3 separate regions of the Homo sapiens genome follow, and regions 2 and 3 are each linked to region 1. The links come from fine-mapping of genetic effects on gene expression. A gene starts in region 1. Each other region holds a variant in brackets. All regions are shown on one strand. Distances are between the middles of the regions.

What was found.
Region 2: its variant is fine-mapped to the expression of SMO in monocytes after Pam3CSK4 (Quach 2016, PIP 0.95).
Region 3: its variant is fine-mapped to the expression of SMO in whole blood (TOPMed, PIP above 0.99).

What each region holds. Positions count from the first base shown.
Region 1 is chr7:129,182,905-129,193,634 of GRCh38, reverse strand. It overlaps SMO (smoothened, frizzled class receptor), which reads right to left and starts at 5,002. Exons shown (of 12, transcript NM_005631.5): 1 at 4,153-5,002. The coding sequence starts at 4,483. RefSeq lists silencers at 4,306-4,565, 4,796-5,065 and an enhancer at 5,695-5,784.
Region 2 is chr7:129,118,515-129,128,257 of GRCh38, reverse strand. It overlaps the pseudogene LOC407835. Among named protein-coding and RNA genes, the nearest start is that of TSPAN33, 21 kb to the left of the region's middle. RefSeq lists enhancers at 478-978, 5,134-5,403, 5,854-6,023. The variant AGGGCCC/C (reference allele first, on the strand shown) is at 5,505.
Region 3 is chr7:129,163,140-129,173,869 of GRCh38, reverse strand. It overlaps TSPAN33 (tetraspanin 33), which reads right to left. Exons shown (of 8, transcript NM_178562.5): 5 at 9,301-9,396; 6 at 6,964-7,092; 7 at 6,310-6,471; 8 at 4,171-6,097. The coding sequence ends at 5,996. It also overlaps the pseudogene RNY1P11. Among named protein-coding and RNA genes, the nearest start is that of SMO, 20 kb to the left of the region's middle. RefSeq lists enhancers at 3,105-3,974, 4,044-4,093 and a silencer at 4,464-4,683. The variant G/C (reference allele first, on the strand shown) is at 6,141.

The DNA.
Region 1 (10,730 bases):
GGCACCCGCCACCATGCCCAACTAATTTTTTTGTATTTTTAGTAGAGACGGGGTTTCACCCTGTTTGCCGGGATGGTCTCGATCTCCTGACCTCGTGATCCGCCCACCTCGGCCTCCCAAAGTGCTGGGATTGCAGGCGTGAGCCACCGCGCCCGGCCATATATATCTTTTTAACTGACTCTGATTACCAGCCAAGTTTGGAAATAGCTCTAAGGAAATTCTTCCTGATCCGTCCCTGAAAATAACCCACCATCACCAAAAACATTCCTCCTCTCAGCCCTCAATTCAATGTGTGAGAGGCAAACAAGAAATTCCTCCCAGCCTTTGTCTCTCTCCTACTTACCTGCAAGTGGGCAAGGTGACAGGGCCACACACTTATGTACCACACAGAGCACAGCAGTGGTTAAGGAGGCTACGTGCTGGCTCTCAGGGACCTATCGCCACTGCCAGCTGCAGGCCTCTCTGCTTTTTTGCCCCACTTACTAAACCAGGTTTGGCCTAAGGTGGACCACGGCCTGGACATTATGTTTGTCTGGTCAGCTTGGAATGCCCGGGAGGAGGCATTTCCAGCTGTAAAGGGGAGAGATGCTAAGTGACTGAAGAAGCCTGAGGCCAGAGAGATGAAAGACAGAGGAAAGACCTGAGGTCTATACAGACCTAGAAATTGGACCAACCTGAGCTATAAACTTCCTCAGTCAATGGCATCCTTCCAAAGCCTCAGTAGTCAGGGCCAAGGAAGCACACAGTGGCCACCTCTCTCCAGCAATTCCTATTTCCAGATCTGCTGAGAATCTCCACATAGATGTCCAATGAGCATCTCTAATTCACACGGCCAAAATCAAAGCCACACCTCCTGCCTAAACTTCTTCTTCCTCTAGCATTCTCTATCTTAGTGAAAGGGAATGGCACCACCTTCCATCCAAGCCTGAAACCCGAGGCCTCCTGCTCACTGAGGCTCCACATCTAACTCATCAGTGCCCTATGAGCACTACCTCTGAAAGTTAGTGGGATCTGCCCACTCCCTCTGTCCTGCTACCCAGTCCCAACCGCCATCGTCTCTTACTTGGGCTACTTCAACATCCCCTGGTCAAGAAGCCAGGCTCCAGGCTTTCCCTGCTCCTATGGCTTCTTCACACCATACCCAAAGAGATCCAGCTAAAATGCAAAGACAATTACATCTCTCCCTTGCTTAAAATCTTTCAATGGCTCCTTATCATCCCCTGGATAACATCCAAACTTAATATGAGGTATAAATCCCTTTATTTTCTAATTCTTTAGGTCTTATCTCTCACAATTCCACCCCTCACACGCTTTGATCCAGTTCTACTGCAACTCTTATACTTTCTTTCAAAGCACCAAGCCCTCCTACCTCTACACCTTTGTACATGCTATTTCCTCTTCCTATCCCTTCAAACCTCAACTCTCCCTCGGCCAGGCAATTCCTGCTTATGTGTCAAGTTATGGGTTAAATGCCAGTTCTTCTGGGATGTTCCTTGGGTCCTTTATGCTTTTTCAGTACCCTAAAATGCCACAGTACCTTTCACAGGTATTTCCAAAGCCTGTTGAATTATCTGTCTTCCTTTTTTTTTTTTAGAGGCAAGGTCTCAGGCTGGTCTTAAACTCCTGGTATTGAGCAATCTTCCCGCCTCGGCCTCCCAAAGTGCTGAGATCACAGGTGTGAGCACCATGTCCAGCCTGTCTTCTTGATGACAGAGGATCATATCTGTATTCTTCATCCTTACATGCGCAGCATGTGACATACAGCAAACATTCAATACATAACTGAATGCATGAATAGAAGCATGGCTGTGTACTCAGTACTCACAGGCTTTGAAAAAAAGTGAAGACCCAGTTCCTACATTCAAGAGTTTACCGATGAAGACAACCTAGATCACCTTCATCCTTCACCCACAAAAACACCCCTAAGAGCCAGGTAACACTGACCCTGTCTAATGCAAAATCAAGATCATTAACTCGGGACATGATAAATCACTTGCCAGAGGCTACCAGCTGACCTGGCTGTGATTCTCACACGAGGCTTGGGTTCACTCTACCTACTCATTACCCAGCTCAAGCCAACACCTGCTTCTGCCCTACTTGCAAGTCCCAAGCAGAAAGAGTGCAACCAGAACACATATGGAAACAGGAATGAGCTGAGGGATGGTGGTTGGTGGCAGAGAAGAACTCATAGTGAACTAATGGAACTAACGGTGCTGGGCTCAGTGCTGGCATCTCTGTAGGACCCTGCCCTGCCAAAAGGCACAGATAGTGAGATTTCAACCTGCACAACCTGCAGATGGTACTAATTGATACATGTTCCAGCTTAAACTACTTCTGTCTGCTCAGCAGCTGCTCTCAAGAGTATGGGCTGGAAAGAGGTTCATACCCTTCCTCCTTGATCTGATGGTAACTACACAGAGGCAACATCAAACATGCATTTAACTTGGGAAAATTAAACCATGGGTCCTTGCACAATCAATAAAGAGAGGGACAGAAAGATTATCCTCTGACAGCATGAGCAACTCAGAACTGGGTGAGATTCTAGTGCTGAGAGATTTGGACTTTCCACACAGCTGGCTCCTAAACTCAAGTCTCATTTTGGGTGGTGCTCAAAGCAATCTTGCTTAATCTCACTTTGGTGTTCTTTTTATTATTATTATTATTATTTCAGTCTTTTGCATGAATGTAACTTTAAAATTACAATTATTTTATCTTCTATGTATACCCATTCTTATATATGAGTATACATGTAACACATGTATGCAAACATCGTAAAAGAAGTGTATATGCAAAACCACATCCACCTTACACTATGGTAATCTGCAGAGTTTTCAAAGCCACTGTTGTTTACACATGATTTCTGTCTAATGTGCTGTGCTGACTTTAGAACCTGATCCCCAAAAAGGATGCAGCTCTTCCTCATGGGTACCATGGATACCATCCTCCAAGTTCCTCCTCCAGCATCTGCACCAAGCCAGGAACCTTATGGCCTTGTCCAACATCTGACAAAGGCCGAGAACTTGTCAATGACAGGCGGCCTACATACACTCCCTACATTAGGGTCCTCACCAGCCCCCTGGGCAGAGCTAAGAGATGGGGTACCCCAGCCCTGTCAAAAGAGGGAGGCTCCCAGTTCTGCTCCTGGCTCCTGGTTTTCTTTTCTTTTTCCCAGGACAGTTTTAGAATCATACTGGCTAGAAGCGAGGGCTGATAAGGCCAGCTCCCTTCCTCAGCACCCTCCAAGCCTCATCTAGAAAAGTGACAGGTGGGGGAGAGTATACTCCACACTGCTAAGGAAGGACATTTGGGTTCAGTGTGCAGTTTTTCAGACTCTGCCACTCCAGTGAGGGGGCTTTGGGACTTCAAACCACCATGGAAGTGTCCACAGGCTCTCAACACTCCAGACTTAAGCGTCCTTCCACAGCCCTGACCAGCCTCGGTAACCAAATTTCCAAAGAAAACACAAATAACTGTTAGAAAGGTCTTATTCCTTCATAACCTCCTGCATGCGTCAGAGGGCCGGTTTTTCAGATGCACAAACTGAATGAAATCTCCCGTGAAAGCCAGACAAGATCACAGTTCTCTAGGCTTCATTCCTGTCTCCCAAATCAAGATTTCCAGAACTTTCTGGTTACCTTTTAATAATTCATCACTAGGGAGGTTTCTTTTCCTTCAAAACTTCACTCGATCATGTCCCCCTACCCTTCCCTCCAAATGTCTAAACCTCTTCCTCCGTCATCCCTCCCCTTTTCCTCTCCAACTCCAATTTCCCCAGGGTCTTCAACACCTCCTTGAATCCCCCGGCACCCTGCTTCCAGAATAGGTGGAGCATCTCCTCTTCTTACAAAATGTCTTTTCCCGTGGCTTAGAGCCACCTCCTCACGGGCCCCTCATCCCCGCCATCCTTTGCTCACCCACCAGCTCAGGCCCTTTGTGACCCGCTTCGTCAACTTCCTTGCCCTCCTTTTCCCATGACCGAGGGTCCCATCCTGCACGTAACCTGCCCCCAAAGTTTCGGGATCTGTCCCTCCAACTCTCCCGGGTGCTGTCCCCGCCCTCTCCAAAACTCAGGCCTGAGCCTGTTCTTTCCAAGGGTGCCCCCATCTTACCGCGGCACCTCCCGCCCCCCAGACCCGGCTCCGCCGCACTTACCCGACCAGAGCACGAGCTTGCCGTGCGCTTCCTCCTGGGAGTCCGAGTCTCCGGCCAGCAGTGTGGAGGTGGCCCCGTAGGGCAGCACCGAGCCCAGGCACACGTTGTAGCGCAGCGGCTCGCAGGGGGCAGCCCGGCCGCAGTGGCTCAGCGGCGGCGGAGGGCCAGTCACCGCCGCGCTCCTCCTCGCGCTCCCGCCCGCGCTCCGAGGCCCAGGCCCGGTCGCGTTCCCGCTCGAGGCCGCCCCCCGGCCCGGGTCCCCCAGCAGCAGCAGCAGCAGCAGCCCCAGGAGCGGGAGCTCCGGCCCCCGCGCTGGGCGGGCAGCGGCCATGGCCAACCCCGCCAACTCAGCAAAAGCCCCGGCGCCCCCGCCTGCTCCTCGGAGCCCCCCGGCCACACGCACGACCTCGGCGGCCGCGGAGGCGGCTCAGGCGACCTGTGCGCCCAGAGAATCCGGGCCCGGGCCCCCCCGGACGCTCCGCGCGCCCCGGCCCCTCGGCGCCCAACTTCGCAAACTTTGGAACCCGGGGCCCATGTTGGGCTGCGGAGGCCCGGAACGGGATGCACGACTCCCCAAGCCCTAGCCTCGCAATCCAAGTTGTCTTCAGCCCTAGGAGACCCCTGGGCCCCCAATCCCCAGCCCCATTCCCTCTCCCACCATTAAAGCCACCTCCCCGCCCCGCGAGGGAGGCCAGACGCGGGCCGGGGGTGCGAGTGCAGCTCCGGCTCCGCCCCCGCGCCAGCCCGCGGCCCAGCAGCCACCTTCGCCCCAGCGCGCCGCAGCCCCCCGAACTCTCCCCGCCGGCGACCCGGCTCCTTTGTTGCTCTAGCTCGCTGGGCTCTCTGGAATGCACGGGCCTCGCGGAGCCAAGCCCGGCCCCCCTGCGCCGAGGCTGGGGGAGGGACTGGACGAAGGAGCGGAGAGGTGGGGAGGGGAGGCGAGAGAGGAAGAGCGCGAGCGTCAGCGTCCCTGGCGCCTGGAGGGGCCCGGGCTAGGGGGATCTGGTGACCCCGCCTGCCGCCGCCCCGCGCCCGGGGGAAAGAGATGAGTGGAAATCGTGGGCCGGACCTGCAAGGAGAGACTCGGCGGGCACCTTGCTTGGTCTGAGGTCGTCTGCAGGAAGCGGACTTTTCTCCTGGCTCAGGATGGGAAAGACAGGGGATGCCTGAAGTCAACGGGGACTTCTGTTCCATCTCTGCCCCGTTCTCCAGGCCCGCCAGTTTTTCCTGCTTTGGTTAGATTTTCCAACGTATCCCGGGGCCCCATGGAGAAGAACCTGGGTTTGGGGTTTGCGCTTCTCCAAATCCTTCCAGCTCGGGACCTTTGAGAGAGACGACCTCAGAGTCACTCACGGCAGCTGCTCTGGCTGCTGTTACCTGCGGGAACAGGTGTCTGGGAAATAAACTTGCCAACATCAAGCCTTTACTGCTACAAATATGTGAAGTCTGAACTGTGGTTCCCAGGGACTGGCCTTGGTTATGTGAGAAGGAAACCAGTCCTTCTTTGATGGCCCTGCTGCTCATCTGCTCTGGGAGGTTTCTGCTGCTCCTCTTCCCCACTCTGCTCATTTTGCCTTTCCTCACTCCTTTGAGCATCACACTTTTGGTCACCACACTTAATTTCCCACTTCAGCAGTTTACACCTGCACAACCAAGTATAACCCAGCATAACCACAAGGCTCCAAACAGGAGAGTAGACTTGCACTGAGCAACTTTTTCCTTGTTGCTGATCGGGCTGCACACCAGGGTGGGTTTTCCTTTCTTACCCCTGGAAGACTTGCTCATGGCCTAGCGGTAGTGGACTAGTTCTGTTACTTTGGACAGTTTAAGTGCATATTAGTTATTGCACTTCAACTATATCAATTGGAGAGAGAGAGAGAATTTAATTCAATTTAGCAAGTCTTTCTGAAATTCCAGCATGTACATAGCACAGAGACATCCTGGAGGAACCTGTAGACTTCCATTTTCCTGTGGATACATGGCTTGCTCTCAGGAAACATAGCATGACAGAACAGCAACGTTCCCTCCTTCAGGTCAGGGACCTTATCTCATTCTCTTAGTGTTCACAAAACATCTAGTTCACTTGAGCATACATAGTAATCACTTGATAAATAAGCTGCCAAAATGAGATGTACCGTGAGTATGCTATAGGAATAGGGGACAGAGGTCAGTGTGGATAGAAGTGGAGGAGGTGGGTTTTGAATCCAGGACTAAAGTGTGAGTAGGAGGAGTTAGAATAAGGACATAGATAAGTAGGGAAACTGATTGGTAAGAAGCCTCAAATAACACACAGAATTAAGGGTCAATTCTCTTGATAGTAAGGAAATCTCAAAGTTTTGACTAGGGGAATGATATTAATCTTTACTGGTTAATATTAGGTGATATGGTTTGGATCTGCATCCCCACCCAATCTCATGTTGAATTGTAATCCTCAGTGTTGGAGGTGAGGCCTGGTGGGAGGTAACTGGATCACGGAGGCAGTTTCTCATGAATGGTTTAGCACCATCCTCCTCGTGCTGCTCTCACGATAATGAGTGAGTTCTCACGAGGATTGTTTAAAGGGTTTGGCACCTCCCCGCTTCTTCCTCCTGCTCCTGCCATGTAAGATGTCTCGCTCCCCCTTTGCCTTCCACCATGATTAGAAGTTTCCTGAGGCTTCTCCAGGAGCAGAAGCTGCTATGATTCCTGTATAGCCTGCTGAACTGTGACCCAATTAAACTTCTTTTCTTTATAAATTACCCAGTCTGAGGTATTTTTTTTTTTTTTCAGACGGAGTCACGCTCTGTCGCCCAGGCTGGAGCACAGTGGTGTGATCTCAGAGCACAGCAGTGTGATCTCGGCTCACCTCAACCTCCACCTCCCAGGTTCAAATGATTATCCTGCCTCAGCCTCCTGAGTAGCTGGGATTACAGGCACATGCCACCACGCCAGGCTAATTTTTGTATTTTTAGTAGAGACGAGGTTTCACCATGTTGCCCCGGCTGGTCTCAAATTCCTGACCTCAAGTGATCCACCCACCTCAGCCTTCCAAAGTGCTGTGATTACAGGTGTGAGCCACTGCACCTGACCAGTCTCAGGTATTTCTTTATAGCAATGCGAGAACAGACTAATACATAAGGCAACATGAGGATGGCATGAAGTGCAAGAGGCTGGAGACAAGGGACCATTTTAAGGAAAGTCTCTGGTGACTTATGGAAGAAGTGAAACTAGACTATGTCATCAGGGCATAATATTCCTACTGGAAAAATAATTTGAAATGTTATGACCTACTTCAGTTATTTCTTTCTGTGACATAATAAAATGGCTGTTATAACATGTCTAAGTCCAAGCTGTAGAGAAAGCTGCCTTGGAGCCTGATAGCACACCCGATGCTTTGCTTTGTGAACTATCTGCACTTATTTTCTATTTGATTGTGTGTGTGTGTTGTTTTGTTTGTTTTTGCTTTTCTCTTTACCTTCCTGAGTGAGCAAGAGTAAAATATCTGGTTGTGGCAGTCTCGAAGCCCTGTGGGATTTTCCTAATATTTCATGTATTAGGGAAGAACTTACACATGTGCTCAGGCAGGCCCTTATTTCTCTACTCCAAATGTCAGTAGGTAATTCTTCAAGGATATAGGCTCTCCCATTTCTTGTGTGAGGTTTCTCAGGAAGTATGAGGAAGATTCGCATTGTGGGAATATAATACCTTCACATTGGAGATAGCAGAGGTAAATTGAGGCTATCCTAAGACACTATCTTCCAGCCAGAATGCTCTTCCCTTCTTGAGGGGAGAATATACCATAAGTTCTCAATTCTGTGTGTGTGTGTGTTTGTGTGTGTGTGTGTGTACACTCATGCACACATGTGCTCCTATTCATCAGACTTCAGTATTCCCTTGTGGGAATCCTGCTGGCCTAGCAAAGGGTAGCAGGAAGGCAGACTGAGAAAATGCTGCTAGTACTGTCCACAGCTATCAGGCCACGTTCCCATTAGTGACAGCTGCAGCGATGTGCTATCTCCTAGATATAGAAGGAAGTAGAAAGAGATTCAGGAATCCTGTCATTTGAGAGAAGGAAACTGTTCAGTGGGGACTGGGGAGAGGGAATTTCCCAGTCGTTCGTGAATGGTATTCAGGTTCCTGGAGAAAGTTCATGCATCCCCTCCTGTAGACATACAAGACTGCCAGTGTCTGTTAGACTACGCAGAGTGACTTGGCACACTCAGGTCTCCAGCCTGGTGGCAGGCTGCAAAGTGCTTCTCTCCCAAGCAAGCCTGAGCCACACCCCACCCAGTTCCTCAAGAGTCTTAGCCTCAACTGCATGTCCTAACACAATCCTTTTCTCAGGGATGAGAGGCTGTCCTGTGTTGACAATGCATTTCAGTACTTGATTTGTTACAAGTAGCTTCTTGATTTCTGAGTCATTCTCATAAAGTATTTTGGCATTTTGAGGTCACAAATTCAATGTTGACTGTCATTTGCCTGTGGGCCCTCCAGTCAAAGAGGGTTGATGTGAACGTATCCATGGGTATCACTGAGACCATGGCTGCCTCCTGTGGTTCAGTTGTTACACTGGCAAAATTCGGAACATAACTGTTGCAGTGCTCCAATTTTTTTTTTTTTTAGATGGAGTCTTGCTCTGTTGCCCAGGCTGGAGTGCAGTGGTGCGATCTCAACTCACTGCAAACTCCGCCTCCTGGGTTCAATCGATTCTCCTACCTCAGCCTCCGGAATAGCTGGGATTACAGACTTCTGCCACCATGCCCAGCTAATCTTTGTATTTTCAGTAGAGATGGGGTTTCACCATGTTGGCCAGGCTGCTCTCCAACTCCCGACCTCAGGTGATCTGCCCACCTCGGCCTCCCAAAGTGCTGGGATTACAGGTGTGAACCACCACACCCGGCTGTGCTCCAGTTCTTTCTTTTCCCAGTGCTTCCTATTTTGCAATTAAGAGCATTGAGTCAAAGGGAAAGGGCAAAATGGTAAAGGGGCCCAATAAGCAACCTCTTCAGAGAGACAGCACGATAGATTCAGAATTAAGAGCCCTGAGTTGGGCCTTACTAGCCATGCACCTTTGAGCAACTTATTCTGAGCCTCAATTTCTTCCCTCCCAAAAATGAGAAAATTATCCGTTGTGTTTCTATATACCAGTGATGAATAACCTGAAAGGGAAATTAAAACAGTAATACCATTTACAATAGCATCTAAAATAATTAAATACGGCTGGGTGCGGTGGCTTATGCCTGTAATCCCAGCACTTTGGAAGGCCAAGATGGGTGGATCACAAGGTCAGGAGTTCGAGACCAGCCTGACCAACATGGTGAAAGCCCGTCTCTACTAAAAATATAAAAATTAGCTGGGCGTGGTGGTGGGTGCCTATAATCCCAGCTACTTGGGAGGCTGAGGCAGGAGAATTGCTTGAACCCGGGAGCCGGATGTTGCAATGAGCTGAGATTGCGACACTGCACTCCAGCCTGGGCAACAGAGCGAGAGTCCGTCTCAGAAAAAAAAAAAAAGAATTAAATACTTGTGAATAAATCTAACCAAGGAGGTAAAAGACTCATATACTGAAAAGTACAAAATGTTGCTTACAGAAATTAAAGAAGTCCTAAATAAGTGAAAGGACATTTCGTATTCAAGGATAGGAAGATTTAACAGTGTTAGTCAATATAATTCAAATTGATCTACAGATTTAGCACAATCCTTATCAAAATTCCAACAGCCTCTTTTTCAGAAATGGAAAAGCCAGTCCTCAAGTTTATATGAAATTGCAAGGAGAGCTGAATAGCCAAAACAATCTTAAAAAAAAGGACTCACACTTCTTCCCAACTTCAAAATATACTGTGAAGCTACAGTAATTAAAACACCATGGCCAGACACGGTGGCTCACGCCTGTAATCCCAGCACTTTTGGAGGCCGAGGTGGGTGGATCACTTGAGATCAGGAGCTGGAGACCAGCCTGGCCAACATGGACAACTTGTCTCTACTAAAAAATAAAAAATAAAAAATAAAAAATAGCCAGGCATGGTGGTGCGTGTCTGTAATCCCAGCTACTCAGAAGGTTGAGGCAGGAGAATCGCTTGAACCTGGGAGGCAGAGGTTGCAGTGAGCCGAGATTGCACCACTGCACTCCAGTCTGGGCAACAGAGTGAGACTCCGTCTCAAAACAAAACAACACTATACTACTTGCATAAGGGCAGAAATACAAGTCAATAGAAGAGAATAGAGAGCCTAGAGGTAAACCCTCACATATGTGGCCAATTGGTTTTCGACAAGGGTGCCAAGCCCAATGAAAAAAAGACACACTTTTCTTTCTTTCTTTTTTTTTTTTTTTGAGGCGGAGTCTCACTCTGTCACCCAGGCTGCAGTGCAGTGGCGCGACCTCGGCTCACTGCAATCTCCGCCTCCTGGGTTCACGCCATTCTCCTGCCTCAGCCTCCTGAGTAGCTGTGACTACAGGCACCCGCCACCACGCCCAGCTAATTTTTTGTATTTTTAGTAGAGACGGGGGTTCACCGCGTTAGCCAGGATGGTCTCGATCTCCTGACCTCGTGATCCGCCCGCCTTGGCCTCCCAAAGTGCTGGGATTACAGGCATGAGCC
Region 2 (9,743 bases), 65 kb after region 1:
GTAGAGACAAGATTTTGCTATGTTGCCTGGGGTGGTCTCCAACTCCTGGGCTCAAGCAGTTGGCCTTCCTTGGCCTCCCAAAGTGCTGGGATTACAGGTGTGAGCCACCGTGCCTGGCCTGGACTCATTGTCTTAAATAGGGGGTTGTCCAAGGGTTGAAGAAAAAGATACTGACCATATTATTTGAAAAGCTGACTAATACACTGTTTAAAAATAAGTTTACCCAGTGTTTCCCAACTTTTCAAACTTCTTTTTTTTTTTTTGGTTTTTCTCTCCCTGTTTTGTTTTGTAACCTAAGGAAGCAGAGGCTCTGAGACCACACACAGCAGCGTCGCCCGTCCCTAGAGGCACGCCGGCAGGGACCAGCAGGAGAGGAGACCCCCGTTCCTGCGTGCGCAGTTGTCGCCCCGCCACGGTGCTCTCCGCAGGGGTGAGGCAGGAGGGTGGGTGGAGGCGCCAGCCTGTCCTCAGCTGGAAGGGCGGGGCGTGGACAGGGACGGTGGGCAGGTCACCAGCGGGACGCGGGGAGCCTGGCCACTGTTACACGGCGGTGCGCGTGGGTGTGCCGGGCTGGTTCAGCCCCAGGGTTTTACACAACTAGCAGGCAAAATCCGCTTCTTTCACCTCGGACCGCTTGATGAAGGCGTGGTTTGTGAGCATCTTTAGGTCCGCCCGCTCCGTTGGGTTTTTGATGAGGCATTTATTGACAAACTCCTGGAAGTCGGGGGTGAACACACCGTTGGGCAGCTTAGGAGGCGGCTCTTTCACAATATAGTCCAGCAGTTCGAAGATGGCCATGGCGGGCAGGCTGTCCATCCCGTAACCGCTGTTGGGGCGCCCGGGGGACCCTGGCCAAGAGGAGATGCTGTGAGGCTCTCCTTCTTCCCTGTCGACCACGGGCTGGCCAAAGATGGCCTCCAGCTCCTTGGCGTCGGGCGGGGGGATGGGGTACCTTTCGATGGCCAGCTCCACCAGGGACAGGTCCATGCTCCAGATGACCGACTGCACCGAGTAATGTGTGCCCTGCAACCGCTCCGGAGCCATGTAGGAGCGCGTGCCCACGAAGGAGTTGGCCATGGAGTCGATGAGCTGGCCGCTCACCCCGAAGTCACACAGCTTGATCTCCCCTCTAGAGTTCACGAGGATGTTGGAGGGCTTCACATTTCGGTGCATGATCTGGTGCTTCTCTCGGAGGTACGCCAAGCCCCGGAGAACCGCAATGCTGACTTTCCCCAGGATGTCCTCGGGAATCCTCTTGGCCTCTTTCAGCCCCTGGTCCAGGGAGCCGCCATCCATGTGCTCCATGCAGATGCTGATCTCCCTGTCACAGTAGAAGGCCCCGTAGAAGCCCACGATGTACGGTGAGTTGCACTCGTGCAGGACCTGGTGCTCGCGGATGATCTGGTTCCGGATGGCCGGCTTGATCTCAAGGTGGATCAGCTTCCTGGCCATGATGAGGCCCGAGGGTCTGTGCTGGACTTTGGTGACCACCCCGCCGTTGCCCGCGTCCAGCTCTGAGGTCCTTTCGAAGTCATCGTCTTTGAGTTCGCCGACCTTGGCTTTCTGGGTGAGAAAGGCTTCCAGCCGCTTCTGCTGCTCGTCAAGTTCCAGCTCCTCCAGCTTCTTCTGCAGGTCCACCAGGTTTGCCTCGGAGGCGCCCTCGCTGGTTGGGGACGGGCCCTCGGCGATGGTAGGGTTGATGGTGAGCGCCGGCAGCATCGGCTTCCTCCGGGCCAGCATCCGGGCTCCGCGGGCCGGTGGCGGCGGCGCCTCTAGCCTGGGCCCGTAGTGGGCGGGCCGGGAGCGTTCGGCGCCTACGCGAGCCCGGGGCTGCGACCGCGGCCCAGGCCGGCGTCGGGGCGGCCGAGGGCGGGCGGCGCTGCGGGCCTGGTCCGAGGGTAGCCGAGGGGCGCTGGGGCTGAGGCGAGCGAGCCGCCGCCGCTGCCGAGGCCCGAGGGAGGCTGACGCTGCAGCCGGAGTCCAAGAGCTTTTCAAACTTCTTATATTTTAAATGTGTTAATTCATTTAATCCTTAAAACGATGACATGAGGTAGGTACTATTATTATCCGCACTTCACAAATGAGGAAACTGAGGCAAACAGAGGTCACCTAGCTTGCCCAAGGTTAAACAGACAGCCACATCCAGAAAGCTATAGAGTCTGGCTTTAAACCCAGATAGACCAGCTCTAGGTCTGTGATCATAACCACTGAACTTTACTGCTTCTTACAGCAAGAGTGTATCTGACGAAGTCGTGACTTGGAACTGGCCAAGTCTAGGAAGGATCCAGAGTTTAATTCTGAAGAAGGGAAAGGAGGCTGATATTAAACATGCAATATTTCCAGGCTGTGCTCAGATCTTCATGTAGCTCATTTATGATTACAGAATACATTGCTAAAGAAAAATGGTAAAGAAACGATACTCGTATTTTGAGCAAATCCCCCTCCTCAGACTCCATTTCTAATTACTGCCATTTTCTGAAAGAGTTGTAAGCAATAAATTCTAACTCTGTTAGAAGAGAAGAAAATGTACTGCTCAGGAAGAGTCCTGCAAAACAGAAAAACTTCAAGACAAGCTTAAGCAGTGGTTGCAGATTTATTGCACATTACATTATTTGGATGGACAGGTGAATTTTCTTTGTCCCATAATGTCTTAAAATTTTTGAATTTGAGCTGGGCACGGTGGCTCATGTCTGTAATCCCAGCATTTTGGGAGGCCAAGATGGGAGAATCACTTGAGCCCAGGAGTTCAAGACCAGCCTGAACAACATAGAAAGACCTCTGTCTCCACAATTTTTTTTTTAAAAAAAATTAGCTGGGCATAGTGGTGAGCACCTGCAGTCCCAGCTACTCCGGAGGCTGAGGTGGGAGGATCATTTGAGTCCAGGAGTTTGAAGCTGCAGCGAGCTGTGATCATGCCACTGTACTCCAGCCTGGGCAAGAGAGCTAGACCTTGTCTCAAAAAAAAAAAAAAAATTGAATTTGAATGCTTTTAGCTTGAGCTTACTCTCTCCAATTAGCCATCATCTTTACCACTCCTAGTTACAAACACTATATTACTTCCCTGGACCTAGTAGGCATGCATAGAGGGAGATAGAGATCATTTGTGCAACTAGAGTGATACAGCCAATGAGTAGTCAGTAAAGAACGGAAATTAGGGGCACGCCATTATCAGGGACAGGTCTGTTAGAATCCCATAAAAAATTCCAGTTGTATTCAACCTCCACTGACAATGACGTGGTTCCAGATCACAGTGGATGGAGGAGACTCACCATGCAGAACTGAGTGACGCAGCAGGAGTAGCATCGTGGCAAAGGTAAGAGGTGAGGCTGTGCCAACCAGAACAGGCTGTATTGAGGAGGAGCAAGAAATAAGGTTGGAGGTGTTCGCGAAGGGTTTCAAAGGGCAGGCAGAAGAGTTCAGATTGTGTGAGGTGGAAAACAAATAAGGTTTGTTATTTGGGGCCCTGGAGTGCCTTGGAGATATCCTGTCTCTGGAATATCTGGAATTGCAACGGGAGTAAGAAGTTAGAAGAGCGGCTGTAGATGTGAAGAGGAGGAAAGGATCCAGGGGAATCGAAGTGAGGAGGTTGGCTTTTGTCTGTAGAATCAGGTCTGGTCAGAGAGGAAACTGGGCAACGCAATCATGATCTCAGGGGAAGCATCATGATTTGGTGGAGTTGAGACTGGGGCCGTGGACTGCAAACAAGGGGTTTGGGGATATTTCCTATCAGGAGCAGTCTCACATCCATATAGGGGTAGGCCACTGTGCACTTTTTATGTGAGAGGTTCCATAACGTTTCTCTTCCCTTACTTCTCACCCTCACCAACTTGTCTGAAATTCCCACCATTCTCTAATCCAATTCCCATTATGGTTAGGTTAAGGTGTGGAATCACTATTTAAAATTCAAATATAGGCTAGGTGCAGTGAGTGGCTCACGCCTGTAATCCCAGCACTTTGGGAGACTGAGGCAGGAGGATCACTTGAGGCCAGGAGTTCGAGACCAGCCTGGGCAACATGGCAAAACCCTGTCTCTACTAAAAATACAAAAACTAGCCAGCCGTGGTGGCTCACACCTGTAGTCCCAGCTACTCCGAATGCTGAAGCACAAGAATCGCTTGAATCCGGGAGGCGGAGGTTGCAGTGAGCCAAGATCGCACTACTGCACTCCAGCCTGGGTGACTGAGACACTGTCTCAAAAAAATAAAAATAAAAATAAAAATAAAATATTAAAAAGAAAATGCAGAAAATGCAAAGATTTCTAGGAGGGATACCCAGACCAATATCTGCACTTCAAATCTTAGAAGTTAAACATTTATCAAGACATGATTCTGTACACCCTCCATTCAAGCCACCAGAAATCTGAGACAGAATCTCATGTGTCTGAGACTCGACCACTCTGATTTTGAAGTGAAATTATTTCAAATGCTTAAATGGGTAGCACTGAGTGTTTGTCTGTTATTTTTCCAAGCCCAGCACCTATTCCCCGTTCTGGTACCAGCATGCTAGATTTCCTTTGGGATGCCACCCCACCTCCTGTCTCAGGCTCAGTGAGCATGGGAGAGATCTACCCTTCCACCTGGCAGGTGGAACGCCGGACTCTGTTCTGGCCAATCAGAGCCCAGGGATGGTTATGCGCTCTAACTTGGTCCAGTCAGAATGAAGCCTCTAATTTAGTTGGGGAGGAGGACCATTACTGAAAGGGATTCCCTCTCTCTTTTGCTGGGACCCCCTGGGATTACAGATGACCTGCAGCCACTGGGGGCTACCCCAGGGCTCCTGAGAGAGAAGGTAACACTGAGGAAAGGTAGAGCTGAGACAGGGTTAAACCAAGTCCCAGTGACATAGTTTGAGCCACAAGATCAGTGGTGCCTGAAACAAGCCCTAACCTTAGACTTTTCAGTTATGCGAATCAGTGAAATTGTGTGGTTGTTGTTTGTTGGTTTGGTGTTTTGTTTCATTTTGTCTAAGTCAGATAAAAATGGATTTTCAGTTATCTTGAAACTGAAAATCTGCTGACTGGCACGCCATCCCGCTGGCTTGTGTGCTGTGCACATTAACAAGACTCACCTTTTCTTAGGATTCATCCTATGTGCAAGATTACCAGGATGTAGCCAGATTCAGGATGCCTGTTTTTATAGCTTAGCTACAGAGTTTTTCTTCACCTCTAGCAATTGCCTATGCCCTTTCAGCGGCCTCAGCAGGGAGAAGCACAGTGGGACTCCTTGAAAGGCAGATCCAGAAGGCTGGTTATGTGGACAGTTCACCACAGTTAACTGGGGTAACCACAGTTGGCCTGGGCAGTCCAGAAGCAGATGACCCACCCCCATACTGTGGGCAGCTCTTCCTGCAGTGCTTAACTCCAGAAAAAAACCCTCCACCAGTTCCTTACTAAGGTGGTAAACAACCCTAAGAAATCTGGCTCTCTAAGCTTGGGACAGCCAAGAAATGAGTCAGCCTTCTGGAGAAACCCCCCTTGCCACAGCCTGTGCTTCCCCATTTCTGCC[AGGGCCC/C]CAGCCCCAGCCCCAGCCCCCATGTCAGTAAAGCCTATGCATTTCTTTCAAGAGCATGACAAAACCTCATATCTGAAAAGCACTGAAGTGCTGTACCTCTTTCAAAGTACTTGTGCATTCATTATCTCATTAGGATACCAGATTTGCTATTTTTTTCTTCAGATTCTTTTTTTTTTTTTTTTAACTCAAATCCAGCAGAGTTTTTTCATGTGGTTCTCAATGAGACTTGAGAAGAGAAAATCAGAATTCAATCCAAAAGCACAGCTTTTCTAGAGACATAAATATAATCCTCCTCTCTCATGCCAAAAATAACAAGGGGGCAGAGGTTAGATTCTAGAGGAAAGAACATTGAGTGTGAACTGAAACCTTTCTAGTTACAGATCTACCACTAAGTAGCTGTGTGACCTGGACAAGCCCCTTAATCTCTCTGCACTTCAGTTTCTTCCTTTGTAAAATGGCAGCATTGAGGCTTCCTGGGAACCCTGGCCTTGATATTTTCTAAGCATCTTTGAAGCTCTGAGGTTTTATGGCTCGGTGAATTGTAGAATCTGAGGAGACTGATTTATAAGCAAGTTGGCACGTTTTTTAAGCCCAGTCATTCCTTTGGTGTGTGCAAGGGAGAGCCCCTGCTCAGAGTGTCAGGAGCCATAGCACATTGGGATGTAGACTGAGCATGGCCCACTTCCCAGAGACCCCAAGGCCTGCCTTAGGCCCACCTCTGATGGTGGTGGTTGGTTGGTGGTGGTTAGTTGGTTAAATGAAGGGTGAGATCCTGACCACTCACTAAATGCTGAACTCTTGATAGATTAGGAGGAAGCTCTGCTATCTGTGGGATGAGGCACAGCAGATGATGTGGTTTGGCTGTGTTCCCACCCAAATCTCATCTTGAATTCCCACATGTTGTGGGAGGGACTGGGTGGGAGATAATTGAATCATGAGGGCAGGTCTTTCCCATGCTGTTCTCATGATAGTGAATAAGTCTCATGAGATCTGATGGTTTTAAAAATAGGAGTTTCCCTGCACAAGCCCTCTCTGTGCCTGCTGCCATCCATGTAAGATGTGACTTGCTCCTCCTTGCCTTCCGCCATGATTGTGAGGCTTCCCAAGCCATGTGGAACTGTAAGTCCATTAAAGCTCTTTCTTTTGTAAATTAGCCAGTCTCGGGTATGTCTTTATCAGCAGTGTGAAAACAGACTAATACAGCAGATGTCAGATTGGTTCTTGGAATGGAAGGTAAGCGAACTCTAGTGTTTACTGAAGACAGGGCCTATGTAGGGATTGGCAGGGTAGGGTGGTAGGCCCTATTTAGCAGTACAGAGACTGACCCAAGGCACTTTTCTTGCTGAGTTCAACCTTCTTTTGCAACCCTTTCTTCTGGCAAGTGCTTTCTGCCCAGTGGGGAGGTGAAAGGGTCCCTCACCTTCATGAACCCCTTCTGTGTGAATATACCCTCCAATAAATCCTGGCTCTTCTTTCCATTTCCAATGACTACTTTGAGAAATTAGGATGTCAGTGGTTCATCTTGTCTCATGCAAGCCTGAATTATGTATTCTTTAAGAACAGTGACTATGATCCATCAGACTGTCTTCCACCTGTCATTCAGCATGGCTTTGGCTCTGAACTCTCCACCAACCTTTTTCCTTCCCTGCAACACACACATTCAAAACTAAAATAACCCATTACCACCACCACTAACAACCCCCCCCCCCAACCATCCCATTATAGATCATATCCTCCCAGGAAGTTTTTCTTTGTTCCTAAATTAATTCATACCAATGTGGTGATGGCCACTCAGGCTTGTTACTTGTCTACCTGCCCTACCACGACTCTAAATATGTATTTCCATTTTAACAGGAGATGTTGGATCCAATTTGTCAAAAACTATCTCATTAAAGGAACAAACTTGTTTCAGCATCAGACTTATGATGTGATATTTTTGTCTTAATCCCTCAAAGTACTGAGAGAAGGTTGGGTACTAGTGAAGTCAGAGCTATTAGGGGGCACCCTGGCTAATCAGGCCTTCCTCTGGGCCAGCAGTGCCATCCTATTTATACCTACAGTTTTAGCATTCAGAACAAAATCTTACTACACAAAGAAATTTATAGATTTAATGCAATTCCTATCAAAATACCAACGACATTCTTCATAGAAATAGAAAAAAAATCTTAAAATGTATATGGAACCACAAAAGACCCTAAATAGTCAAAGCAATCTTGAGCAAAAAGAAAGCTGGAGGCATCACACTACCAGACTTTAAAATATCCTACAAAGCTGTAGTAAGCAAAACAGCATGGCGCTGGCATAAAAACAAACACATAGAACACTGGAACAATAGAGAACCCAGAAATTAATCCATGTATCTATAACCAACTGTTTTTTGACAAAGGTGCCAAGAACCCTTATTGATAGTCTCTTCAATAAATGGTTGAGGCAAAACTGGATATTCATATGCAAAAGCATGAAACTAGATTCCTGACTTTCATCCTATACAAAAATCAACTCAAAGTGGATCAAAGACCTAAATGTAAGACCCAACCCTATAAAACTACTAGAAGAAAACATGGGGAAATGCTTCAGGACATGGGTCTGGGAAAAGATTTTATAAGACTTCAAAAGCATAGGCAACAAAAGTAACAATAAACAAATGGGATTATATCAAACTAAAAAGCTTCTACACAGCAAAGGAAATAATCAATAGAGTGAAAAGACAATCAACAGAATGAGAGAAAATATTTGTAAACTATTCATCCAACAAGGGATTATTATCTAGAACATACAAGGAATTCAAACACTTCAATAGCAAAAAAGCAAATAATTCAATTTAAAAAATGGGCAAATGGGCCAGGCATGGTGGCTCACACCTGTAATCCCAGCACTTTGGGAGGCCAAGGCAGGCAGATCATTTGAGGTCAGGAGGGTGGATCACTTGAGGTCAGGAGTTGGAGACCAGCCTGGCCAACATGGTGAAACCCCCTCTCTACTAAAAATATAAAAAATTATCCGGGTGTGGTGGTGGCACATGGGTGTAATCTCAGCTACTCGGGAGGCTGAGGCAGGAGAATGGCTTCAACCTGGGAGGCAGAGGTTGTAGTGAGCTGTGATCGTGCCACTGTACTCCAGCCTGGGTGACAGAGCAAGCCTGTCTCAAAAAAAATAAAAATAAATAAAATAAATAAATAAAAGGGCAAATGATCTGAACAGATATTTCTCAAAAGAAGACATACAAATGGATGGTCAACAAATATATAAAATAATGCTCAATATTACTAATCATCAGGGAAACACAAATCAAAACCATCAAGAAGTATCATCTCACTCTGGTTAGGATGCTATTATCAGAAACACAAAAAAATAACAAATGCTGGTGAGGATGTGGAAAAATGGAACTCTTATTCACTGTTGGTGGGAATGTAAACTAGTACAGCCACTATGGAGAAGAGTTGGAGGTTCCTCAAAAAACTACAAATAGAACTACCATATGATACAGCAATCCCACTACTGGGCATTTATTCAAAGGGAAAGAAATCAGTATATCAAAGAGACATCTGTGCCCCTATGTTTATTGCATCACTATTCACAATAGCCAAAATATGGACTCAACCTAGGTGTTCAATAACAGATGAATGGATAAAGAGAATGTGGTATACGTACACAATAGAACACTATTCGGCTATTAAAAAAAGAATGAAATCCAGTTATTTGAAGTAATGCGGATAGAATTGGAGCACATTATGTTAAGTGAATTAAGCCAGGAACAGAAAGTTAAATACTGCATGTTCTCACTCCTTTGTGGAAGCTAAGAAAAGTTGACTTCATAAAAGTAAAAAGTAAAACAGAGGATACTAGAGGCTTGAAGGGCAGAGGGAAGTGGGAGTTAGAGAGATGTTTATTAAATGATACAAAATTACAGCTAGATAGAAGGAATAAGTTCTAGAGTTCTATACCAGTGGTCCCCAACATTTTTGGCACCAGGGACTGGTTTCATGGAAGACAATTTTTCCACAGACCAGGGAGTGGGGGATGGTTTCAGGATGATTCAAGCGCATTACATTTATTATGCACTTTATTGCTATTATTATTACATCGTAATATTAATATGTAATGAAATAATCGTACAACTCACCATAATGTGGAATCAGTGGGAGCCCTAAGTTTGTTTTCCTGCAACTAGACAGTCCCATCTGGGGGTGATGGGAGACAGTGACAGATCATCAGGCATTAGATTCTCATAAG
Region 3 (10,730 bases), 20 kb after region 1:
TATAGAGGAAAGGCGCTTCTAGGAGGACTCCTCTTCTTCCTCCTCACCGCACTCCACTCCTTCCTTCTCTTGTTTCTGGGAATAGACTTTCTCCATAATCAGTCCCTGGAGCATAAGAGGGCTGGTACCTCAGCCTCCCTTTGCCTTCTCTTTCTTCATGAGACCAGCCCAGGCTGTGACTAGAACCTCATTCTCAATTCCCAAGTCCCAGGGAAATAACTCTGTTTGTTACTGTTTGGGTTAGGTGCCTGTTGTGGGTTGAATTTTGACTTCTTAAAAAAGATATGTTGAAGCCCTAGACCCCTGCACCTCAGATTGGGACCTTATTTGGAGATAGGGTCATTGCAGAAGTAATTAATTAAGATGATGATACTGGAGGCCAGGCGCGTGGTGGCTCACGCTTGTAATCCCAGCATTTTGGGAGGCTGAGATGGTCAGATCACCTGAGGTCAGAAGTTCAAGACCATCCTGACCAACATGGTGAAACCCTGACTCTACTAAAAATACAAAAATTAGCAGGGCGTGGAAGTGCGTGCCTGTAATCCCAGCTACTAGGGAGACTGAGGCAGGAGAATCACTTGAACCCAGGAGGTGGAGGTTGCAGTGAGCCAAGATCGTGACACTACACTCCAGCCTGGGTGACAGAGCAAGACTTTGTCTCAAAAAAAAAAAAAAAAAAAAAAGATGAGGATACTGGAGTACAGTGGGCCTTGATCCAATGTGACTGGCATCCTTATGAGAAGAGGAAAATTGGGACACAGACACAGAGGGAAGATGAAGAGGGAGGCAGAGTCTGCATTTATACTGCCGCAAGCCAAGGAATACCCAGCTACCAGAAGCTGGAAAGGACAAGGAAGGATCCTCCCCTGGAGGCTTCCGGGGAGCATGGCCTGGTCAACACCTTGATTTCAGACTTCCGGCCTCCAAAACTGTGAAACAATAATTATCTGTTGTTTTAAGCGATCTATTTTTGTGGTACTTTGTGATGGGAGCCCTAGGAAACGAATAGAGTGCCTGAGCTGGATCCAATCAGCTATGCCTAGGGGACCAGGCCTTAGAGGATAAATATGGCTCCTCAAGACTCACCCCTATGGCTTGAGGGGTGGATGCCAGTTTCCAAAGAAGAAGGAATCATTGCAAGTTGGGAAGATACACTGAAAAGCTGTCTACTGTAGCTTCCTAGAGCTAGGACAGTATGATATTCTGGTTTTCTTGTTTGTTTTACTTTAAAATCTTAGCTCTTTTACCCTTCTGGAATGCTTTGCAGTGCACAGTGTGAGGTAGGAATCTGTTACTTATTTTCCACACTGTAATAATTCGCCTAATAGCATTTATTAGTAATTATGATTACAGCTTCCTCTCAACATTGCATTGCTTCTTGTTTATTATATAGTGAGCACCGATGTCCAAAATATTTCTGGAATCCCTTTGCTATTTCCATTCATTTGATTGATTTTCCACATTCCCGATATGGTAATGAGAAGACTCTGGAGGCTTAATTTCCAACTGGAGTTCTAGACCGTGGTTATCCCTTACTTTATTCCCTCCCCTAAGTGCTTTACCTATGATGATTTGAAATATCTAATTGCTCTTATTTTTGGGGGTGGGGTGGGGGTGTTTACAAAACAGAACAGAAGAACTGCTGATGGAAGAAGCTGTGCTGCTTGCTTTGTGTGTGTGTGTGTGTGTGTGTGTGTGTGTGTGTGAGAGAGAGAGAGAGAGAGAGAAAGAGTCTTCTCTGTTGCTCACTGGAGTGCAGTGGGGTGATCACAGGTCTCTGCAGCCTCGACACCCACCTCCCTGCCTCCCACCCCCACCCCTACACACCCCCAGGCTCAAGTGATCCTCCCCACCTTAGCTTCCAAAGTAGCTGGGACTGACCCAGGAGGCTAGATAGCAAGAGACAGTAGAGGCCAACATGTCACCATGCCTGGCTAATTTTTATGTTTTGTACAGACAGGGTCTCCCTCTGTTGCCCAGGCTGGTCTCAAACTCCTGACCTCAGGTGATCCTCCTGCCTTGGCCTCCCAAAGTGCCGGGATTACAGGTATGAGCCACTGCACCTGGCCTGCTCTCCTTTTTGAACCTGGTCTCTGGCCCTGTTAACATATCTGGTCTTCAGGATGAGGATAAGTCAGAAAATAGCCAAGGCTGCGTATTGAACTTCATAATAAATATGTGCCTGGTGCATCATAAGCACTTGATAGACGTTACATAATTATCAGAAAGAAGACCAGAGAACACCTACCTCAAACTCTTGCCAGCATCCAACATCAGCTCATTCCCAAATGCCCCGCACCTGAAGGCATTCATGAGGCTGGAAAGGGGGATGTAATGAGCTAAATCATGCCACCCCAAAAATGTCCATGCCCTAATCCCTAGAACCGATGCATCTCTTTCCTTACATACTAAAAGGGACTTTGTAGACGTGGCGAGATTCATGATCTTCATGGGGGAAGGGCATCCTGGATAATCTAGATGGGCCAATACAATCACAGGGGTCCTGTCAGGGGGCAGTAGGAGAGTCAGAGAAAAAGGAGATGTGATGACAGAAGTTGGAGAAAGGGACCACCCAAAGGTATGCACGCGGCCTCTGGGAGCAGGAAAGATGGATTCTCCCCTGAAGCCCCCAAGAAGGAATACAGCCCTGCTCACACCTTGATCTTAGCTCAGTGAGACCCATTTTGGACTTCTTACTTCCAGAATGTAAGATAAATTTGTGTTGCTTTAAACTACTAAATGTCTGGTAATTTGTAACAGTAGCAATAAAAACCTGATAGGAGGAAATCAGAATTTCACTGAACATTCTGCAAAATTTGCTCTTCTGGGCACAAGTCTTTGTTTAACTGCAGGGCTTAAGGCCCGCAGAACTTAGTGGTGCCTTTCTTGGCATGCCACCCTGGCAGGTTTTCACCATCCTTCAGGCCTTTCTCTCCACCTCTGTGTACCAAGCCTGATTTCTGCTGTCCCCAAGAATCTCCTTTCATTCAACCACCTTTGCGGCCTACATTTGATTAGCTATTCTAAAGTAGTGGTGTCAGAAGCATTTGAACCAGAGCAACTCCATCTTCAATAGGCGCTGGGTAAAATAAGGCTGAGACCTACTGGGCTGCATTCCCAGCAGATTAAGGCATTCTAAGTCACAGGATGAGATAGGAGGTCGGCACAAGATACAGGTCAGAAATACCTTGCTGATAAAACAGATTGCGGTAAAGAAGCCGGCCAAAACCCACCACAACCAAAATGTTGACGAGAGTGACCTCTGGTCGTCCTCACTGCTACGCTCCCATCAGCACCACGACAGTTTACAAATGCCATGGCAACGTCAGGAAGTTACCTTACATGGTCTAAAAAGGTGAGGCATGAATAATCCACCCCTTGTTTAGCATATCATCAAGAAATAACCCTAACAATGGGCAACCAGCAGCCCTTGGGGCTGCTCTGTCTATGGAGTAGCCATTCTTTATTCCTTTACTTTTCTAATAAACTTGCTTTCACTTTATGGACTTGCCCTGAATTCTTTCTTGTGTCAGATCCAAGAACCCTCTCTTGGGAAGGACTCCCGGTAACAGTGTGTGTCTGGTAACAGTGTGTGTTTGGGAGGAGGGTTACTAGAAATAGGTAGAAATTCAAGGAGCAAACATGAAATATAAAACTTCGCGTATTTTCTTCCCCAGCATCAGGCCGAAGAGAAAGAAAGCTACAGACTGAGAATCAGAGACATTGGCAATTTGCAATCTAGCTAGGAACCCTGAACTGCACTATACTGAACATTTGCTCTGTGCGTTATAAAGTCTGGGGCATGGGCAGAAGTTCCCAGCCTTTTAGTCCAGACCCAGGAGGCTAGATACTGAGAGACAGTAGAGGCGATGGTGAAAGTGTAGTTCTTAGTTTTGAAAATCCAGATTTGAATAATCATTCTGAGGATCACGGTTCCTGGTCTTACTTCCTCCAAGGGGCCCCAAACGGAGCCCGCTGCAGGGTGAGCTCCTCAAAGCCGCTGAACCCAGAGGGCGCATCACTCCAACCTCTAACCCAAGACATCGACTTCTGGGTCCGTGTCACTTAAATAAGTTTATAAAGTGCACGTCTCTGGCACTAACCAAGAAAGGCAAGTTAGCAAGAAAGCGCGCTTTTTAACTGTCCTCTCCCAGAATAAAAGGCCCTTACTTTTTATTCTAGATTCTGGATAATTTTATTTTTTCTTTCCGTCTGTTACTAGTTGGGAGCTAAACACTGGCCAGGGTCCCAGCGGCTGCTGGAAAGGCGCCTTCCTAGGAGCAGAAGGCTCGCTTAGGAGACACTGGGGGCAGGGAGCGAACTCGCGGCTCTTTGTCCCCGCAGCAGTTCGGTCGAGGCTATTTCCCGCCAGGCCGAGCCCCTGGTCTGAGCGCCCGATAGCGGGGTGCGGCGAGGAGACTCCGGGAACACTCGCTGGGCAAGCAGCTAGCACAGCCCCCCATCTCCTCCGGGTTGGGGGACGCAGGCGCGGGCCTAGGCCGCCGCGGGGGCGGGGACCACCCACGAAGTCCAGCGCCCCGCCCCGGACGCGCCCGCCCCGCCTGCCTCGCGCGCTCCTCCCGGCGCCAGGAGGCCCAGCGCACCGCGCCGAGCTTCCTCGGAGTCCTCCCTACAGCCGACTCAGGGAGAAGGTCCTGGAGGGCCCGGGTAGGGGAAGAGAGGGCCTTCTTCCTCCTCATTCCCCGTCCCGGCCCCAGCGGAGTGCTCATGTCCCTCCTCCCCATCCCCCTCCTGTTTTGGGTGACAAATTAATTTTAATTAGAAAAACACAGATCAGGTTTTGGAACAAAATTATGCTGTTCCTAGATTGGAACTGGGACTCTTTCGACCTAATTTAGAGCAGAGGGCGAGGCTGTGGGAGGGTGGCAATGCATCGGTTGAAGGAGACGCGCGTGTGGCGGGCAGCAAGGGGGAGGTGTGTGGCGTTTAGGAGAGTCTCCAGTGCCGTCCTCTGCAGGGCCCTTCTACACCTCCCCTTCCAGTTGCCAGAATGGAAAATTCATGGAGTCCCGCGTAGCCCAGGTCAACACGCTTTTATTGCCACTTCTGGCTCCCCTCGTCCCAGCAAGATTCCTACCTCTTACCCTGTAGGAATACTGAGCTCCGATGCAGGGGAATGGGGTGGGGGTGTTACCACTTCTCCTCTGCACACTGCCAAGTTAAAGAAAACCCTGCTTGCTGGAGAGGGAGGGCCAGACAGGGAGGAATTCAAGGGCATGTATGGCTCAGTCCCACTTCTGACTGCAGAGTATAGGGACCAGGGTTCCAAACTTTTTTTCGAAGTAAGGGAGGTGGGGAAGAATTTGGCTGCTGTTGTACCCCGTGTCCTAGCTGCCATGTTTCCATGGAAATGAAGGCGGGGCAGGATGTAGCTCACTCTGACTACCTGGGAGGATGGCAGGACAGGCATTTGGTAAACATATCTCCCTCCACTCCTACCTAGCACATACGGCTGTCCCCAGCCGACCCCCAGGCTCTCTCCTCACTGCCTGCTCCACTCCCTTCCCTTCTGGAGCTGGTATCATGCCAAGTGGAGTCCAGGCAGGGCTGCCAGTGCTACTCTCCACAGCCAGGTCTCACTGGCACGTTAGGATCTAAGTATGTCCGCCAAGCTCAGGAGCATCCCTGCTAGAGCTGGTGGTGGCAGTGCCTCGGTGAAAAGGCAGCAGCAGTACCCCCAACTCTCTGTGCAACTGCTGTTTCCCAAACAAAACTGAAAACATAAACCCAAACACTTAAGGGTATCACTCTGGCACAATGCTGAGGGCTGGGATGGGGGAGAGGAGGCGCATCCTCCTGAGACTGGAGCCACCTGTGCACCCTGCCTTCTGCCCATCTGGAGTTTGCTTCTTCCCACTGGGCTGTCACTGGGGGGCTGGAATCCAAATCTCCATTTGGTGCTGCTTTCAGCACCCACTGCTGTTCGTTTATGAGGCTTGCCAGTTTCCATGGTGAGGAGGTGCAGGATGGATTCTCAGTACCATGGGTCAGCCCGGTGCTGCTGGTTGTAGAGCTGTAGCTTGATCTGATCTTTGATCTGATTCACTAGGATCTGGGACAGCAGAATTCCCACCAGCTGGGAGAGGCAAGAAGGAATTGGGCACTCAGCAGTGAGTGAT[G/C]GCCTTGTTTTCCCTGGCTCGATCTTCCCAGTGCGGCCAGCACTATCCCTTTCCCTACCCCTCAGCCATGTCAGTGCCTGACACCCTCGCTGATCCCCAGGTGCCTTCCCCAAAACAAAGGAGTCTTTACAGAGTGTGTGGGACCAACAAGTCTCACAGGGTAAGTTACCTGGGGGATGGCCAGGCCTAGAGCCACACCACCAAGTAAGAATAGGTTGCTGTGTATCCAGTTGACCAACTTGTCAATACAGCCATTGGTGTAGATGACTTTGCTAGCTTCCAAGTAGTCAAAGGCCTGCATACCTTGGCCACACATAGTGTTGATCACTGCCTGGGGAAAGAGTTGAAAAGCCAATTGGGACTGTAATTCCAATAACTTTTTGTTTGGGGCCTTAGCTGATGGGCTTCCCACCCTTCCCAAACTCCTAAATTGTCAGAGAATATATGTGGAGGATATTGGGTTGGAAGTTGCCAAATGCAGACTTCCCTTCCTCTGAGAGGTCAGGATCCAGGTCTCTTTGCTCTGGGTGGTGGAATAATCTGTACAACAAACCCCTAAGACACAAGTTTACTTATATAACAAACCTGCACAGGTACTGAATCTGAACTTAAAACTTAAATCTGTCCCTTCTGAACTCCATGTGGACTACATGAGTATGAGGTTAATAGAAGCATCAGGTTGGGGTGAAGAAAAACACCTGACAGCTGTCCCACATGACTGATCGGTGAAGCTAGGGGATGGGGATCCCCAGTAGCAGCTGCCCCCATCAGAAAGTGACTCAGCTCGCTGCCTAGGAGGAAATGAGGCAGGATGCTGGCTCACCTGGTCAGGAGTAGGCAAGCAACAGGAGTAAGGCACAGAGCAGCGCTCTCGACTGGGGTTGTCTTCTGAGCAGTTGAAATACATGTTCTGAGACCAGTCCTTGTAGGAAATCCCTCCACAGCAGCTAAACTGCAACAAAACCCACCAGAGGTTAAGAATCACCCACCCCTCACACTGAGGTGACCAGGGGAATTCTCAGAGCCACCAAAAGTCTATAGCAAGCTTCTACTGGGAACTTTAGGTTGTGTTTTAACACAGCCTTAAACTTTGAGCTCCAGCTTCCCAGTTGCCTTCGCCTGAAGATATTCTCACTTCTTAATTTCTATTACTTCGTATATCTTGTTATAACTTACCACTGTGCTTGTTGGTATTACAGTTGTACATATATTTTGTTTTACATACTCAGCTATAATCTTCTTGAGAGAAGTTTCTGGCTTTGCAGGCAAATGGAAGTGATCAAAAGTATTGGCTGAAATAATTACAGTATCAGTGCTGAAAAACTTCTCCTTAAGATAGAGAAAACACAGGGGAGGAATCTTCAATATTGTGAGTCAATCATTACTCCATGAGAGCCAACTGGATCTCAAAGTCAAGTGTCTATTGCACCAGAGGAAGGGGAACTCAGGACTTGTCTCAGAAGCACTTTTACTTAAAAGTTAACTTTTTTGGCCAGGTGCTGTGGCTCACACCGGTAATCCCAGCACTTTGGGAGGCCGAGGAGGGCAGATCACCTGAGGTCAGGAGTTCAAGACCAGCCTGGCCAATATTGCAAAACCCCATCTTTACTAAAAATACAAGAATTAGCTGGGCGTGGTTTGGCAGGCACCTGTAATCCCAGCTACTCAGGAGGCTGAGGCAGGCAGATTCACTTGAACCCAGGAGGCGGATGTTGCAGTGGGCCAAGATCACGCCATTGTACTCCAGCCTGGGTAACAGAGCAAGACTCCGTCTCAGGGAAAAAAAAAAGTTAACTTTTATTTTTCACTTATTTATTTTTGAGACGGAGTCTCTGTCTGTCACCCAGGCTGGAGTGCAATGGCATGATCTTGGCTCACTGCAACCTCCAACTCCCAAATTCAAGCTATTCTCGCACCTCAGCCTCCTGAGTAGCTGGGACTACAGGTGTGCGCCACCAAACCCGGCTAATTTTTGTATTTTTGGTGGAAACAGGGTTTCATCATGTTGGCCAGGCTAGTCTCAAACTCCTGACCTCAAATGATCTGCCTGCCTTGGCCTCCCAAAGTGCTGGGATTACAGATGTAAGCTACCATGCCTGGCCTAATTGTTAACTTTTGATTCATAGCAGCCTTGTTCACAGTAGCCGAACGGTGGAAGCAACCCTTTTCTCCACTGGTGAATGAATGGATAAACAAAATGTGGCATATACATACAACAGAATATTATTCAGCCTTCAAAAGGAAGGCAGTTGTGGCACATGCCAAAACAGAGATGAAACTTGAAGACATGCTAAGTGAAATAACCCACTCAAAAAAGCATTAATACCGTGAGTCCCTTCATTTGAGGTACCTAGAGTTGTCAAATTTACAGACAGAAAGTAGAATGGTGGTTGCTGGAGGAGAGGAAAATGGGGCTTTAGTGTTCAATGGATACAGAATTTCAGGAGAGGAAAATGGGGAGTTAGTGTTTAATGGATACAAAGTTTCAAGAGAGGAAAATGGGGAGTTAGTGTTTGATGGATACAGAGTTTCAAGAGAGGAAAATGGGGAGTTAGTGTTTGATGGATACAGAGATTCAAGAGAGGAAATGGGGAGTTAGTGTTTGATGGATACAGAGTTTCATCTGGGGCAGATGAGCGTTCTGGAGATGGTGGTGATGGTTGCACAACAATTGAAGGTACTTCATGCCACGGATCTGTATGCTTAAAAATGGTAAATTTTACATTATGTAAATTTTATCACAATTTTTTAAATGTAATTTTCTTTTTTTTAGTCTAGTCAAGTGCAGCAGTGAGAAGGGGGGAAAGAGTAGAACAAGGAGTTGGATCTGTAGCTGACTGTGAACAATCAAATGAGATAACTCACTCCCTTTGGACCAGCCTAAAATGTCACTTTTGAAGAGGTAATATTCAAGAATCTGCCCAGTTCCTCACCCCCTGTAGGTAACCATTTATAACACAGTAGATTACTATATATACTGTTCTGTGTCTTTAAAAGTACATTTAAAGCACTCTGCTACGTGTGCTTTTTTGCCAAACCCCTTCCCAGAAGCCATTACCTGGCAGGTAATGAAGAGCCCCACAGGCATAGAGGGTGAGGCATCTCTTGGGATGACATTCACTTTTACCCACAGTCCCCCAGACCACTGGCTGACCCATACCTTTTTCTGGCCAAAATCAATGAGGTTCTGCAGATCCAAGTCATCTCGGTAGTGCACAATGGCATTGTTGATGATCTCACTCACTTTCCCTCGAGCCTGCCGGAGACATGGGCAAGGAATCAGAACACAGGACTAATCCCTAACTTGCTCCTTCCAGCAAAAATAACAGTAGACAGGGATCATCCTTCTTAACTGAGTCTGCCTTGAAATCAGAACCGAGTCCTAATGGTGGAAGATAGCCGGTTCAGTTCCAAAGCCCATCCCAGGGCCCTCAGGTACCAGTGGGCAGGAGAAATGCTGGACCTGCTGTTGAAGCTTTTCAGAGACACATTTCAAGATATACCAATGTGTATCTATCTCTGAATGCTATTATCACAAAATACTTGTTGACTGATAAAAACAAACTAATTTTTAATTTTTTTAGCAGAAAGTAGCTTACTGAGCTGAGGCACTGCCCTCTAGTGGACACTAGATAATTGCATCTCTTTAGACTCAAAACAGAGCTATTTAATACATCATTTCAGGATCTTACTGTAAGCCAGGAGGACTACGAAATTCGGAATTAACTCAGTGGCTCTCGATTTCATAATTTTCTCCCCTCCCCTCCCCTCTCCCTTTCTCTTTTCTTTTCTTGATACAGTTTTACTGTCGCCCAGGCTGGAGTGTAGTGGCGCGATCTCAGCTTACTGCAACCTCCTTCTCCTGGGTTCAAGCAATTCTTGTGCCTCAGCCTCCTGACACCTGGCTAATTTTTTTGGTGTTTTTTAGTAGAGACAGGGATTCGCCATGTTGGCCAGGCTGGACTCGAACTCCTGGCCTCAAGTGATCTGCCCGCCTCAGCCTCCCAAAATGCTGGGATTACAGGCATGAGCTACCGCGCCTGGCCCAATTTCATAATTTTCTACCATAGTCTCTTCCTTCCTGCCCCACTACTTTTCTCAAATTTTCTTTCCTTAGTTTTGTAGTCTGCCCTTGGCAATCATTTGCCTTTTGGGAAAGACATTCTGGTTCTTAAAAAGGACTGTCACTGAATGGCAGACCATTTCCAGATATGGCAAGCATTGTTCAAAACCTTTTATTAAGCCAATCATGGTGGCACATGACTGTAATCCCAGAGACTTAGGAGATGGAGGCAGGAGGATCACTTGAGCCCAGGAGTTCAAGGCCAGCCTGGCAACCTAGTGAGACTCCCATCTCTTAAAAAACAAAAACAACAACCAAAAAAAAAAAAAAAAAGAAAGAAAGAAAAATAAACCTCAAAACAAAATCTTGTTCTCTTCCCCCTTCCTTCCTTCTGTTTATCTCAATAAACAATTTTTAAAAGAAATAAGAGGCTCTTCATATTGTCAGTGGTCCACTTGATTATTGAGTTTGATTCTGTCATTTGCTATTAAAGTTTCTAAGTTATTTTAACTTTGTGTTTGTATAAT